2 separate regions of the Homo sapiens genome follow, and region 2 is linked to region 1. A link means that fine-mapping ties the variant in region 1 to the expression of a gene that starts in the linked region. Tissue or cell type: whole blood. Region 1 holds a variant in brackets; the other region holds the start of a gene. All regions are shown on one strand. Distances are between the middles of the regions.

Region 1 (8,102 bases):
TGAGACACAAAAACAATAGAAATCCATATTTGCCTGGCTCTGAACCACACCGCTGCAGCTCCCCCACCCCTAGAACCCCACCCAGCAGTTCCAGATGTCCCCACAAGGGCTCTCAAGTTCTCCAGAGAGGACAGTAGTCAGAGGCTCAGACAGGCAGGGACTCCAATGATGACTGGTGACGTGAGCCTCAGTTTCCTTATCTGTAAACTGCAAAATGTAAAATCTGAAAAGCGGAGATAAATCTCACTTCATGGTGTTGTTCTAAGGACTAAACGATCCAATATATGTAAAAGACCTAAGCCCAGTGCCAGGCATCTGGTAAGTAGTCAATAAATGCTACCCACCACTACTACCAGCCACCCCCATTACAGCCTCCTCATCAATACCCATCCCTGCTCCGGCTCGCCTCCCTCCCGACTCGGGCGTTCTCTCCATGCCTCAGATCCAGTCACCTCTCCCAAGGATCTCCTTGGTCTTCTCAGGAACCTGGCCAGCCTGCCCCAGCAGACATGCCCGGGCATGCCTCCCTCACCCTCAGCCTCATGCTGGGCTGCTGCCACGCAGATGCAGACACCCAGGGACACACAGGCAGAAACACCCCACTACAGTCTCGCTGCTCTCTGTCCTTGCCTGCCCCTCCCATGGGGCACACCCATCCCCAGGCTCCCAAGCTGGGGGACCAAGGCTCTGAAGAAACTAGCGCCTGGCAGGGATGGCACTGTGAAACCACAAGGCTGTTTAAGAGTCACGGTCACTGTCAGGGGGCCCACAGGAGAAGTCAGTAGTGAAAGCCAAACACAAAACACCCAGGATGAAATCAGGCAAATTGGAGAAAGTAGCTGGGGGCACAAGGACACTTGGGTGGAAGACAGAGGAAAGATGCGGGTCACATAGCAGCTTCCCCTAATTCCCACGCTCCTCCACCCCGCCTTGAAAATCTGGCATTGTCAACACAAAGCCGGAAAAACCCTGGAGGCAACAATCTCAAACCTGAGACTTAATAAATGCCAACTCTGTCATTTACAGAATGACCTTTGACAAGTCTCTCTTCTTCTGGGGGAACCACAATTTCCTCTTTTTTTTTTTTTTTTTTTTGAGACGGAGTTTCACTCTTGTCACCCAGGCTGGAGTGCAATGGCACGATCTCGGCTCACTGCAACCTCTGCCTCCTGGGTTCAAGCAATTCTCCTGCCTCAGCCTCCCAAGTAGCTGGGATTACAGGCATGCGCCACCACGCCAGCTAATTTTGTATTTTTAGTGGAGACGGGGTTTCTCCATGTTGGTCAGGCTGTTCTCGAACTCCCGACCTCAGGTGATCTGCCCGCCTTGGCCTCCCAAAGTGCTGAGATTACAGGCGTGAGCCACCACGCCCGGCCCACAATTTCCTCATTTCAAAACAGGAGAGCAGCCCAAATGGCATGAATATCTGCAGGCAGGCCCTGGCCGCTGCCCTTACCTCAGCTGCACTCATTAATTCACCTTCCCTGAGCGCCTGCTCTGTGCTGGGGGCCACTAGGCCTGGGAAGCAAAGGCTGAAGGCTGCTGGAGAAATCTGGTCTTAACCATTCCCACGCAGGCATGTGGGCAGGCAGTGCGGGCTGGGTGTGCAGAGAATGCACTGAATTCACCTACAGGGTCTGTCGCCTGAGCCTCTTGAAGGAACACAGGGAATTCAGGTAGAGAAGGCAGAGAGGACATTCCAGGAAGGGAAATGAAGGTGGGGAGGGAATGACAAGTGTGGGGTTTCTCAGGGTAGAAGAAGTTGTGAAGCGAGGGGTAGCAGGTGTGAGGCTGGAGGATTACGGCCATGTGCTCTCTCAGGAGCCTGTGGGAGGTGGGCGTATCCCATCCAGGCCAGGAGCCGCAGGAACCTGTCTGTGCCTTGGGTCAAGGTCATGCTGACTGCCTGAGCAGCAGGGGCCTGGTTGGGCGATCCCTGGAGAGGCAAGGGGCCAGCACAAGGTGGTGGCAGTGGGAACAAAGAGATGGAGAGGAGGGGAAATGGGGAGAAGCTGGCTCTCTGTAGAGAGTGCCACTGGCTCAGTCAGTTCAGGGATGCAAAGCAGACTCATTTTAAAGACCTGCTGTTCCCTTCTTCCCACTATACTCAGCAGCTTCAACCCCTCACTCCCTTGAATAAGACCAGCCTGTAATTAGCAAACCTCAGTAAACAAACCAGTGGTAGCGTCCTCAGCCCAGGCTGCAGGTTAGCCTCATATGGGGAGCTTGGGAACTTTTTAAATGCCAGTGTCCATGACCTTCCCCAGACCCAGGGAATCAGAACCTCTAGGGATGGGGGACTAGACTGCTGCATTTTTTTCAAGCTTCCAGGTAATTCTAATGTGCAGCCAGGGTTGAGACCTACTGGGCAGGCGTCTTTAGAATCGCTGGTTTCCTTAAGCTGATGATCTTCTAGTGCCTTAGTGAGGTGGGGATGCTGTCTCATCCAGGCCTTTGCTCCTGCTGTTCTCATTGCAGAGATCACTGTTGTCCCTTTCCCCCTGCCTGGGTCAGTTTCCTACCTACCTCAGGTCTCAGCTGAGGCAATATTTTCTCTGCAGAGGCACCCCCAAGCTCCCCAAATCTGGGTCATGGGCTGCTCCTATACTGTTCTTGCCTGTTTACGTGTCTGTACCTCCCAACTCTTACCTCTTCTGGGGTGGGGGGGATTTTAGCTTAGCTATCATTTATCCGACATGGAGTAGACACAATATACACACTTCTTGGGTGAGAAAATGAATGAATGAATCTTATTTACACTCCCATTTGCTTCTTCCTAGAATTGGAATTAATTCAAGTCCAAAATTTGAGTTCAAAAAGTTTTTCCCCTGTACCAGTAGAGTGTTTGAAAAGAGGAGGGAAGACCGGGTGTGGTGGCTCACACCTGTAATCCCAGCACTTTGGGAGGCCAAGGTTGGGTGGATCACCTGAGGTCAGGAGTTTGAGACCAGCCTGGCCCAACATGGTGAAACCCCGTCTCTACTAAAAATACAAAAATTAGGCTGGGCGCAGTGGCTCACACCTGTAATCCCAGCACTTTGGGAGGCCAAGGCAGGCAGATCACAAGGTCAGGAGATCGAGACCATCTGGCTAACACAGTGAAACCCCGTCTCTACTAAAAATACAAAAATTAGCCGGGCGTGGCAG[C/T]GTGTGCCTGTAGTCCCAGCTGCCGGGGAGGCTGAGGCAGGAGAATGGCGTGAACCCGGGAGGCGCAGCTTGCAGTGAGCCGAGCCACTGCACTCCAGCCTGGGCAACAGAGCAAGACTCTGTCTCAAAAAAAAAATACAAAAATTACCTGGGCGTGGTGGCAGGCGCCTGTAATCCCAGCTACTCGGGAGGCTGAGGCAGGAGAATGGTGTGAACCCAGGAGGCAGAGCTTGCAGTGAGTCGAGATTACGCCACTGCACTCCAGCCTGGGCAACAGAGTGAGACTCCATCTCAAAAAAAAAAAAAAGGAGGTGAACAGGTGGGTGGAGGGGACAGGATACTCACAGCCAGGACGGCCACTCCAGCAGCAGGAAGCTCCCTCCTCCATCTGCCAGGCAGTGCCTTTGCCATGGCCCCTTGAACCAAAATGTCTCCCCCTTCCCCTGCTGCCTCTGGATCCAGGCACGCTGTCACACCCACAAGGCCTGGAGCTTCGGAAGGATGGAAGAGGTTTTTCCGGGGAAACAGAGAGAAGGCCTTGCTGGGTCTGGGAGGGGGACTTACCCCCTCTAAGGAAATTCTTTATCAGCAACTTCCCTGAAGGTCTGAGGGACACCCCCACCCCTGGAGGCCTTGCACAGGGGAGCACCTGCAGACATGGCCTGCACAGTCGCAGTCTCTGACCCTCAGCACCAGCTGGTCACTGGGGCCCTGCAGCTCCCCGGGGCATCCAAGGTTCCAGTGCCACTGGGAGGTGCAGAATGTAAGGCCAAGAATCACAAAGGGTGAGCTCAGCACCTGGCGGGGTGGGAGGAGGGTGGGCAAGGAAGAAGCTGAACATGTTCCAGACAAGGTTTTAGGGTTGATTATCAGGGAGCCCCTGCTGTTCACTGTTGGCCCCCCCGAAGGTCCAGCAAACCACTGACAACCACCAGGTTCAAAATAAAAATCCACTCCCTCCTTCTTCTTCCCGTCCCCTCCCCGACTCAAAGGCACCTTCTCTCTGTGACTTCCCCATTTCTATAAATAACCCCTCCATCATCATTTCAGTCACTTTTGAATCCTCTCAGGCCCCGACTCTCACCCACTCATCCCCTGTCCCCACCCAGTGTCCCTGTAGATGCGGCCTCCTCACCACCCCTCCATCTTTGTGCCCCCACAGTGCTTTTCTGCCTCAGCCCTGCTGCTCTTTGTTCCCCTGCATTCCAACCCCTCAGGCCACTGCCAGGACAGGCCCACCCATGGGACTTCCCTCATCAAAACCATCATCAGACCCCACCCCTATAAAGAAAATACAGCCTCCCCGAGTGGCATTAAGACTTCATACAATGAACCAGGTGATGTGGCACAGGTCTGTAATCCCTGCTACTAGCAAGACTGAGGTGGGAGGATCACCGCATCCCAGGAGTTCAAGGCCAGCCTGGGCAACATAGTGAGACCTCATCTCAAATAAATAAATAAATAAATAAATAAATAAATAAATAAATAAATAAATGAATAAATGGAGAATGGAAAAAAAAAAAAGACTCCACAAATGGACAACATGCCTCCCTGGCCTGACTCTTCCAAACAGCACTCCACAATCTGCCCTTTTCTCAGATCCCAAAATAGGCCCTGTGCTTTGGTGCCTGCTATTTTCTCCATTTGGAAGAAATATCACCCTTCCAAGAGTCAATGTCCTGCTCATTCTTCAAGGCCTCCTCCATGCAACCCTCCCTGACACCCCCACCAGCTGTGCCCCTCCTCCACTGCACTCCTTCAGGCCCAGCCTTTGTTGACCCCTGGCCACAGTTTGGAGAGCAGTTTCGCCCCTTATTGGCTGTGTGATGGTGGGCAAGTCCCTTAGCCTCTCTGGGCCACGGCTTCTTCATCCTTCTCAAGGGTGCTGCAAGGACTGATTGGGACCACCTGCCGTGCAAAGCCCTGCACGTCGTAAGTGCTCGATACACAGCAGTTGCTGCAAGTCATCTCTAGCCCTTCTTCAGGTGGCTCAGCTGTGAGCCTGTCTGCAGATGCACACGAACAGACATCTCCCAAGATCTCTGCTTGCTGTCAGCTGTCCGCTGGCCACATCTGGTGACCTTGCTCAGGGATCTTCTGAGCCGCAGCCTGCCCTTCCTCAAGGTGAGCGTGCCCCGCTGGCAGCAATTGCTTCCCCCGTGGCCTGCCCTGCTCCCCATGGCTCCTCGGGGAGCATGTCTAAGGCACATTCTCCTCCAGAGCCCAGCAGGGCTGAACCACTGCAGGGACATTTTGAGGCAGGATGGAGCACCCCCACACCAGCACTGGAGCTGCAAAGTGCTTCCTAGAGCTGCCAGCCTGTGATCTTCAAGTGAACTTAATGGTGGAAGAAAAAAATCTTGACACTTGGTTGATGTTAAATGGACCTACATGCACTAAATCAGTCACACTCAACTTTCTCATGCCTAGTGTGCTCTCCCAGTGCCTCAGTCGTGCGTTCATTTGCAAAGATTTCCCACTTCAAGGACAGTACTTTCCAGATGGGACTGGAAGACAGACCCTGATAAGGCCTTATGCAGATGACTTGGCAGATTTTGGGCTAACCACACCTCAGGGCCAGAGTGTAGAGGGAGGGGGCCACTGCCTGGAAGAACTCAGCAGGGAGAGGAGCTCAACTCTGAGCGGGCTCCAGGAACAGAGCCAGGGAAAGGCAGGCATTCAACCCAAGTCCAGTCTGTATTGTCCTCAGCAGAGAAAATAGCCCATTCTCTGTGTCCTCTGTGACTACACCAAATGCAGACCGTGAGCCCAAATGAACATGGCACCAGAGAAGCACAAAGCCACATGCTTTTATTGTTATTCCTGTGTCTGCATCATTCATGCCACGCCATTGGGACCTGATGGAAGACACGGGATGTTCTGCCATCCGGCAGGGGACAGGTGCTTCAAAGCCTGTAAAATCCCAAACGTGACATTCTTTAAAGTCATGCCTCTAATGCCCTCAGTAATGCATTTTTACTCCCCAGGTGAACCCCATCAAAGGGGTATTAGTAGGAGACGTTTTCTTCCCACCCCTAGGGAGTCCGCAGTTGGTGCCTGCCATGACTGGGAACCAACCTGCATGGCCACTGGGCAGGGCCAGGCTGGGCCCCAGGCTGCTCTGCGGAAATTCACGCTGCAGGTCTCAGCCGCCCCTCCCTTTGACCCTCAGCCTGACCAGGGAAGGGCATCCGACCCACACACTCTCACTTCCTCTTTCCAAGAACAGAAATAAGGCACCAACTTAACACATTGTACTTGGAGAGAGTCTTGCACCCCTTTCAACTCCTGGACATCGTTCTTTCCTGAGTGCTTTTCTTCCCTCTTCTGCAGCACTCCCTTTCCTCTCCACACAGCATTCTGGTTCTGGCTTGCTCTCTCTGCTCTCTTCTCCCTTTGAGCTCTCGTACCCAGGATCCTAGAGCGTCCGTTCCTTCTGGGCTTTCTTTCTCCCCCCCATCTCTCATGTCTCCCTCCTCCTTTCCTCCTAAGTCCCAAGCCTAGAGTCCCCTCCACCTCTTTCCCAGGCCCTGCTCCCCTCTGTCTCAAACTCCTCCTTCTCCTCAATTCAGAAGAAAGCTGGCCAGAGAGATCTCCTGTCTCCTCCCCCTTCACTTCCCCTCCTCTCCCCGCAGGCACACAAAAGGGGACAGAGGCACCAGATGGCCCGGTGCTAAAAGAGGGGCTCAGGGAGGCTGCCGCCCACAGAGGCCCCTGCTGGGCCTTCAAGCTAGTCCAAGCTGCTGCCGGGCCCAGCCGCCCAGCTGGCAGAGGAGCAGGGCAGAGGACCAGCATCCCCAGTACGAGGCCAGCTCCCCCTGCCCGGCCTGCCCTGGGGCCAGCCTGGAGAGGGAGCACGCTTGCCAGCTGAAAAGCAGAGGGTGTCACCATGTGTCCAAGCCTCAAGCGCCAGGGGCAAGGGTCCGATGGCCCGTGGGGACACTGGGCTTCCTCAGGAAGAAGGAGAGGAGTGGCTGGCAGTCTGCTCTTTCTATGGAACAGGCTGTGCCAAGGAGGGGGCCTCAGCAATGGGTGAGCAGACCACAGGGGAGCCAACAATCCCCCAGTCCCCTCACAAAAAAGAAGATTTAATGACGCATTGGTTAATGTTAACAGCTACCATTCATTCAGTGGTTAGCTGGGCCAGGCATTATGCTAAGTCATTTCCTATAACATCCCTAATCCTTCAAGAGTTCTGCAGGGTAAACATTTTGATCCCTATTGTACAGACAAGAAAACTGAGGCTAAGAGAGGTTAAATGACTTCCCCAGGCATCATAGCTGGAAAGTCAGTTAACACAGTTTATTCCAGGGTTCAAGCGATCCTCCCACCTCAGCCCCACAAGTGATTAGGTCTATAGGCACGCACCACCCTGCCCATAGTGAGACAGGATCTTACTGTGTTGCCCAGGCTGAGCTCAAATGACCCCCCCAGCCCCACCACAACCACCACCTTGGCCTCTCAAAATGCTGGGATTACAGATATGAGTCACGGTGCCCGGCCTAGTTAATACAGTTTAAAGTTTCTTTTCCAGTTAAGATTCTGTAAGTCCTGCTAAGGTGGTGTTGCAAAAGCAGGCACCTAACAATGTCCCCACTAAGGCCTTCAATAAAGCCACAGGCAGGCCAGGCGCGGTGGCTCATGCCTGTAATCCCAGCACTTTGGGTGGCCAAGGCAGGCAAATCACATAAGTTCAGGAGTTTGAGACCAGCCTGGCCAACATGGTAAAACCCCGTCTCTACTAAAAATACAAAAAAATTAGCTGAGTGTGGTGGCACATGCCTGTAATCCCAGCTACGCAGGAGGCTAAGGAAGGAGAATTGCTTGATCCTGGGAGGCAGAGGTTGCAGTGAGCCAAGATTCCACCACTGCACTCCAGCCTAGGCGACAGAACAAGACTCCATCTCAAAAAAAAAAAAAAAAAAAAAAAAGCCACAGGCAGAAGCTTCCAATTC
Region 2 (8,102 bases), 180 kb after region 1:
GGGAGAACAGACAGACCAGAACAGAAAGGAATTGAGTCCTTCATTCCCCTGCTCACTGAAGTGCTGGCAAACAAGACTATTGTCCAAGCAAATTGGTAGTTGAGAGAGCCTGCCCTAAATTCTATGTGGGATGAGGTGATGAGGCTACGTAAGGCCCTTAAGGGCAGAGAGATCTTGATCATTCCATTTGCCATCATCATCCTCACTGATATTAATTTCTATGTGCCAGGCACTGTTCTAAGTACTTTGTCTGTACTAACACATAGAATTCTAAAAATGAGAAGTTTCCTCATCTATTACCTCAAATCTGCAGGTAAGGAAATTGGGACACAGAAAAGTCATTTTCCAAAGGTCACACAGGTGGTGAGAGGCAGAGCTGCTTACTGTGACCCTCATGCCTAGCACGGAATGTGCCATATCAGAGCTTGCTAAGTCCTTAGCTTGATTTCTCCCAGACGTAATAGCTACGGAGAAAAGGTGATGGCAAATAAACATACTGACCAGCCTCGCCAGAGAAACGAGTGCTTGGAGAGTTAGGGTTATATGTATCCTCTAATAAAAGTAGATCATCTCCCCTACCCGAGGGAGAAACATGGACTGTGTCGCTTTGGCAGAGGGACACAGTTTGCAAGGCTGAGGGGTCCAGTTCCACAGGTGGACAGTGACTCGATTCTACTCACGGCTTTGCTGTGCAGCAAAACTCATTTGCCATCATTGCAAAGGTCCCAAAATGTTAAAAGGCAAGACCTGAGGCAAAAATGAAACTCACAGGAAGGGAAGGCCTGTCCATGCCACCATAATAGGTCACTGTCCTAGAGGACAAATTTCAAATCAGTAAATGATCCTTGGCACCTCCAGATGCCAGCTGTATGCCCACCTGCCCAGGTGCTGCTACACGGAGCGTTAGCAGCAGCTGTTTGTGCAGGGGCAGGCTGAGCCTGAGCAAGCATCACCACAGATGCACCTCAGAGAGGGGGCAACGGGCTCCAGAAGCCAGTGTGGGCACGCACTTCCGATTCCAGCCTCTTTGGATGGTGTTTTCTCCCCACCTCCCTTCCCAGCCCACTTGCTCACATACCATCAGATGCTTTCTCCTGGCACAGTAAGATTGGCTGGCCTTCGATGAGGTCAGTAACTCTAAACTTCCTGAAAGTTTTATCTAAACAGTAGCCAATAGTTCTGGCCAATATTTGATGCAAATCTGATGTGTGGGGTAGGTCTTTGACCAAGGCTGTAGGGATGCCGTGAGGAGCAAAACATTTTCATTCAGTTCTCAACCCGACGAGGGAAATACTGTTGAGACCAATTTTACACCTGAAAACTGGGGCATGCAGCAATAAAGAAATTTGTCTAAGGCTACAACTAGTAAGTGGTAGAGACAGAATTGGAGCCCAGGTTGGCCTGGACCATACAAGGCCTCCATGAAGAGAAAACACACTGGCCTGACTTCAGTGGTGGCAAGCAGATGTCTCACTAAGCCATCCCTCTAACATGAGAAGTGGTAACATAAGGCTGAGGAGTGGGGAGAGGGGTCACAAAAGCGGTGCCAGTTAGTGGCAGATTAAAGCACTGAACTAGAAGTACCTGGGATAAAGCATGGATATCAGTTGCCTTGGACTTGACCGCATTTCAAGTCCACTGTAGGGTTCAAGAGATCTACTGGCTCAGGGTTTCACACAGGTCCGCCTTGCTGATAAATGTTTTGGAGCTTTTGTGTATTTGGCTGGAAATAAGCAAAAAGTAAATGAGCCAAACCCCTTACTGTATAAACCCAGAAAAGCCTGGAGACTTAGTCTGGGGAGCTCAGGATGAGAATGAAAATTGTGGCCTCTGAATGCCACTCCCATGGCTGCCAGCACCCCTTGTTCCTGAGTTAACACCAGAGCTGGATGGAGGCTGGTGAGCTTGGGGTCTTGGGGGGCATGGGGTCCTAGAGCTGGCTCTCCTGGGAGCCTTTCTGCTCCTTAGGTAGAGTGGGGCCTCCTGCCTTGGGGCTTCCATTGTAGCCCTGCACGCTGGCCTTTTTTCACAACCAAAGCTGTATCCATCCTGGGGATGAGGGTATCCTAAGGGCAGGACAGGCCCCTCCCCAGTGCCTGGCACTGGGCCAGAACCCTAAGGGCAGCTCCACACTGTGAGTAGGGGCCTGAGCCCAGACTGCAGAAGGACAAGACAAAGGCAGGCCCGGCAGGCAGCCTGGCAGCCACAGGAGAGCTCCGGATACCCTCCAGGACTGGCAGGGCAGCTGTTAAGCCCTGGCTCCATGGGCACATATCAGCGCCAGTCCCCGCAGCCCCTTTCCTCAGGGTCCAGCACTCCGACCTGGCCAACCCACAGCCAGAGAGCGCTGGGCAGAGCTTCTTGCCAAGGAAGGCTCTTGCCATTTCTAAGCAGGTGCTCTGGCTTTGTAGGAAAGAGGGAAACTTCTCTGCGGATATGTGGGGGAGGGAGGGAGAAAGGGGAAGGCCTGTTCATGCAGGTGCAGCAGGGCCTTTTGAGTCGCTCCAGAACTAGTCTGGGGACTTGGGGTGGGAAATGGGTTGGGTAGATGAACTAGGGAAGTCCACTTGTTGCCAGGTAAGTTTAGTGGAGGATAAACAAGCAATTCTACCTAAAGAGTCACAATAAAGAGCCCTTGGTACAAGATCCTATGGGATTTAAGGGGAGGAGCCGAAGTCAGCATGCAGTATCGGGAATGCTTCCAGAGACAGACACCTCTAATATTTTTGAAGGCTGCCACGGGGTTTGTGGGGGGACAGGGAAAAGGCATTCCAGCCAAGGCACATGCATAAAGCATGAGAGAGTAGGTGGGTGCATGGATGGGTGAAGTTGGGGCTAGTGGGATCCAGGAGCCAACAAACAAAGCTCCTGCCAATAATACCCACACAAGAATCCTGTGCCCAGAGGCAGTTTGGAAGACTAAGAAGTCCACAGTCGCATCATTGCCCTCCTCTCCTGGGTCATAGGCCTCTTCTTGGCACACCCGGAAAAGAGGTGGAAACAAACAGCTGCCCAGGACACCTGGGCATCTAGGATGGAGGCCTCTTCCCCACTACCCCAGGGGCCAGGCCATAGCCCTGAGGGTTTCTTCTGCCTCCCCGCAGAACAGAGCCATAACCCACTTTAAATTACAACTCGGTACACACTTGCAGAAGCATTTCTCAAAACCTAACCTACCCTTGGCTTGTATAAAGCACTCTAATTTTTATTTTAATTTAATGTTGGTCTCAACCCACAAAATTGCTTTTATAACCCATGAGTGAATTGTGCCTGCAGTTTGGAAACACTGCCCTGGAAAGGGATCTGCCTGCTCTTCTCCAGCCCCACTTCCCAGAAGAAAAACCAAAATGAGAGCCCCTGCGTCCTGGTGAAGGTCAGTGGCGGGCAGGCCAAGCAGGGCCTCCAGAGCTGCTCGAGGGCCTCCAAGGGAGGTGAGCTGCAGAGGGACCCAGGAGGGTGGAAGGATGCTGGCTGGAAGTCACAGAGGGCCAGGTTCAAATCCTGCCTCCGCTTTTGATTGGCTCCCAGACCTTGGATCTATCTGTGAATTAACCTTTGAGCCTCGGACTCCTCGTGCGTTAGCCTGGTATAATAGTCTCTCTCTCGCAGTGTTGCCGTATGGATTCAGGGTGATTTAATGACCTCAACAGAGCTCTGGAACATTTGCGTAGCTGGCAGGGCAAGGCGAGGGACAGCCCAACGAAGGCAGGTCCTTGAAGTCCTGGTTAACACTGGTTTCCAAAATTCGAGCCGGCCTGCGGTTTTTCCAGCACGCCTGAAAGCTGGGGACACTCATGCACCAGGTACTCATTCCTGCACACCCCGCCCCCGCCCCACGGACATGAGGGTCCATAGGTCGCCCCACTTCCTCCCCATCCCTCCGGCCAGCTCCAGCTCATCCTCCCAGTCTGGCTCGGCGCGCCGCCTCCACATCACCTTTCAGCAAGGCCCGGGACCGTGCGGTGCACCAGTAGGCCCCGTCCGCCTCCCCAGCCGTGCGTTTCTCAAAGGCAGGGTGAGCCCAGCAGTGTGTGTGCGTGTACGCGTGCGCGCGTGTGCTGGGGGCGGGGTTTGCAAAACTCCCGCGAGCCCGCCCTCCCTCCACCCTCAGGCTGCAGGCCCCCGCGGCTCTAACAGCCGGTGCCCTGCTGGACACACCCCGCCTCGCGGAAGCGGCCTTGGCACGAAGGCCCTGGCGACCCCCAGGCAGCGCAACGGGCCGCTCCCCTCTCACCCCCGCCCGCGCGAGGCCCCGCGGGAGGACGCGGACAGAGGCTGTTGGCTGTGCTGCCTGGCCCCACGCCTCCTGTCTGCGCGGCGGGAACACTCCGCGGGCGGCCGCGTGGCCGGGAAGGCGCGGCTGGCGCGGAGTCTGCGGGTGCAGAGCAAGCGGCCGCCCGCTGCCTGCCCTGGCCGGTGGGGACAGCCCGCCCTGCCAGGGAGACTTGGGGGGGCACCGGAGTCGCTGCGAGGTTGCCTCTAGTGGCCTGAGGGCGGGGCGGGCGCGGGGCAGCTGCTGAGGGCACAGTCGCCTCCTGGTCGCAGGGCCCGCGACAGACCCCGATTCTCCCTCCCGGGACACCGGGTGCCAGCTGCGGATATCTCTCGCCGCCGCTGCACCCCGCAGCGACAGAGGGGGGCCCCCGGGAAAGAGGGGAAAACCAGCCGCCGCCCGGGACGCTGGTTCTGCGGGTGGCTTCTGAAAATGCCCCCAAGCCCCGAGGAGACTGAGGTGCCTGAGGCAAAGGGGTGCCACTTTCTGCTCCGTGTAGTCCCAGTGTCAGGGGCCTTCTGTGAACCGCGGGAGGGACATAAGTTAGACACCGGGAATACCCACACCTTTGCATGTGGCTGCTTCGTTTCTGTGCCTGAGCCACTTGGCCCTTGCTGTAGCTTCCTACTCGTTTTACAAAGCCCTGCTTGTGCTCACCTGCCCGGTTGGCGCCCTTGCCAACTACCCGGCCAACCACGAATCACGGCCCCAGGCTGTCCACAGGCTACCCACAGGCTACACCGGCTGCAGCTCCTCTTGCAGCATACCCTGCATCCGGCGCTGTAATGTGTGTGTGCCTCCCCCTGGGCTGGGGCCCCTTGAGGCTGCGGGTCTTTCTTAAGTCCGGGGGCTCTTGCCTGGCCTAGGCCTGGTTCCTGGTTAATAAGCTCTCAGTAAGAAGGTTCTGATGGCCCAGGCACTATGGCTCAGGCCAGCACTTTGGGAGGCTGAGTCGGGCGGATCACATGAGGTCAGGAGTTCGAGACCAGCCTGGCCAACATAGTGAAACCCTGTCTCTACCAAAAATACAAAAATTAGCTAGACATAGTGGCAGGCGCCTGTAGTCCCAGCTACTTGGGAGGCTGGGGAAGGAGAATCACTTGAGCCCAGGAAGCGGAGGTTACAGTGAGCTGATACTGTGCCATTGCACTCCAAGCCTGGGCAACAGAGTGAGACACTGTCTCAAAAAAAAAAAAAAAAAAAAAAAAAAAAAGGTTCTGATGTTCCAGTGTGTGAGGCAGGGCTGCCCTAGGCCTTCGAGGTCAGCAGCTCCCCAGGCAGGCAGATGCAGGCAGTTGGGGAAGGTCAAACAGGAGGCTGGAGGAACCAAAGCCCCCTCCCATTTCCACACAAGGCAGGGCCTGCACATCAGGCTGCCCCAGGGAGAAGCTGGGATGCCAGCGCCTTTGCCTCCTTGGAATTAGGTCACCGTCCAGAGGCCTGGGAGCCTCCAGTGTCCCGCGTGCCTCGTGCCCCTCCCCTAGCACCAAGCCTTTTCTGGCATGGGGAGGCAGCTGCAGTGGGAAAAGTGGGCCCCAAGTCAGAGGGGCAGGATTGCATGCCCTGTCACTGCTGCTGAACTTGGTTCCCCATCTATGCAAAATGAAGACAATGAGCAGGACATACCTGGCAGGACTATTTAAGGACTAAGTATGTCACCAGCCCGGGAGGTGATACGCCTGAGGCCTTTTCCCGTCCTCCCAGCCCCAGCCACCCCCTTCCACCTCCTCCCACCTGGGAAGGCAAGTTGTCCTTTTCAGAGAAAAGTGGAGCTGTCTTTGGCCCCCAGGAGCTTTTCTCAACATGAAATTTCTCCAGTTTTGTGACCTTAGGCCAAGAATTGCAGTATAGGAGGAGCCAGGGTTTCTCCACACTTGAAGTTTCTTGCTGTGGGCTCATTTCTACACTTTGAAGAGTGCCAGTGCCCTCTTCACAGCCTGAAGCCCCAAGCACTTGTTCCTCTGGCCCCTCTGCTCACCTGCCAGATCCCCCTAATTCCTCCTCCACCCCCCTACCCCATTCTGTGAGCCATGGGGCTCAGCCCCTCCCTCTCCTCCCATGGGCATCATGAAGACAGGGTTCTACCTGGCTCCTGCTGCAAAGGCCCTGGGTGGGGGAACACACTCCCAACACTGCACAGGACTGCCTCCCCACCCCCACGACCTTGTCCCTGGGCCACAGGCCTGCTTCAGTGTTCTTGCCCAATGAAAGCTGCCCTGACACTCTTTTAAACCCGATTCTGCTGAGGGTTGGGTTTCTTGGTTCCAGGATTTTTTTTTTTTTTTAACCACAGCTGGCACCCTGGCCAGTTCTAAAACAGCCCTGAACTTCCTATTCCACTCCTCAGTTGTGCCCAGCTAGAGTCCCTTGGCTTCTTCTCTCCTGGTCATAAACCTTGTCCAGGGCTTTTCTTTTGCCAAAGGACGGTCTGGAGGCTTCTGCATCTACCCTGGCTGTCACCCTAACCCGTGGCCTCCCCAGCCTTTCCTCTGGCATGCCCACCACCAGCACCCCACTCCCTGGTCCTGCCCATGGCTAGTGAGGGTCAAGTGAGTGTCCAGCCGAGAATTTAGCAACTCAGAGTGAGAGAAGCTTTAGCTTTGCTTTTTAGTAAGTTAAGACTGACACATGGCCATCCACTCCCAAAGAGTCCCAGCCCTCCAGGCAGCACTGAGGCCCAGGCAGATGGCCCAGCCGCGCTCTGCAGCTTCCCTGCTGCCCACCCACCCACCTGCCCACCGACAGCACCGCCAGGAGGTCTGGGCAGAAAGCATGCAGCTGTGATGGCCAGGCACCTGCCGCAGCCCTGTCTCCAAGCTGGACAGAACTAAGATGGAGGCTGCCACAGGTCAGGTTGCAGCAACTCTTGCCTCCACCTGGGCAGAGGCAGCGGCCGGGGTGGCATGGGGCTGGTCTGGCCGGTCCCACTAGCTGGATCCTGGCTACCACAGTAGCACGTCCTGAAATTGGTCTTTGTTGTTGTTGTTGTTGTTTTCAACTTTATGTATAAAAAAATTTTCCTAGAAATTTTTAATATTCTGGCTACCAGATAACATCTCCCAGAATTCCCACACCCCGAAGGGGCATAAAACTCCTGCCAGACCACACGTTCTGATTTTGGTTTGGCATATATGGTCAATGGCTGTAAGGCTGGTATTCCGGGACACTTTGCCCATTTCTGGATAAAGGGCAAGGGCAGTGAATGGAGTAGGGAGGAACGTGGCTGAAATAGGGAAGGGTCAAGGCCAATATGGACATGTGCTTTCTTTGGTTCCACAGTGTTGGAGGCTGTAGCCTTTGACCAGGCATGGGACCAGGAGGTGAGGCCGGCTCTCAGGCATCAACCAAAGGATCCACTGAATCTCCCTTCTCCCCCTGCCAACAAAGGTACAAGTAGATGTTGACACCCCCTCAGACATGGAAGGAGACCCATTTTTTTCTTTTTCTAGTTCTGGATAAATGGCCTTAAACAAAATATGCAAACAGGCTCCTTGCGTCTCCCAAAGGCAGCCCACCACAGAAGCCCTGCCACAGCCCAAGGGGTTAGATGCTGCCAGGATCTGTTTCCGCCACAGAGCAGCTCTGTGCAGCACGTTCCTGCCAACCACCCTGAGTGCTTCAGGGCTTCCGAGGCCGTGACAGTGAGGGCAGCGGCACTTCTGGGTCACCGTGGGACAGGTCTCTGCCTCAGGACACGGATTGACAAGCTCTCTGAGTGGGCCAGGAGCTCCTTAATGTGAGCCAAGCCCAGCCCTGCCACCTTGGCCCCGTTCACCTCGAGGATCTCATCGCCCACCCCCAGCAGCCCTGAGTACAGCTTGGCCATGCT

Evidence for each region. PIP is the estimated chance that this variant, and not a neighbour inherited with it, causes the effect.
Region 2: it holds the start of KIAA1614-AS1, and the variant in region 1 is fine-mapped to the expression of KIAA1614-AS1 in whole blood (INTERVAL, PIP above 0.99).

Annotation. Positions count from the first base shown.
Region 1 is chr1:181,127,565-181,135,666 of GRCh38, reverse strand. No RefSeq gene overlaps it. Among named protein-coding and RNA genes, the nearest start is that of LINC01732, 43 kb to the left of the region's middle. RefSeq lists enhancers at 23-606, 314-733, 1-1,100, 3,497-3,546, 3,577-3,756 and 3 more. The variant C/T (reference allele first, on the strand shown) is at 3,148.
Region 2 is chr1:180,950,369-180,958,470 of GRCh38, reverse strand. KIAA1614-AS1 (KIAA1614 antisense RNA 1) reads left to right here and starts at 3,584. Exons shown (of 2, transcript NR_145481.1): 1 at 3,584-3,803; 2 at 7,553-8,102. It overlaps KIAA1614, which reads right to left. Exons shown (of 9, transcript NM_020950.2): 9 at 6,857-8,102. RefSeq lists an enhancer at 3,349-3,954 and a silencer at 3,990-4,529.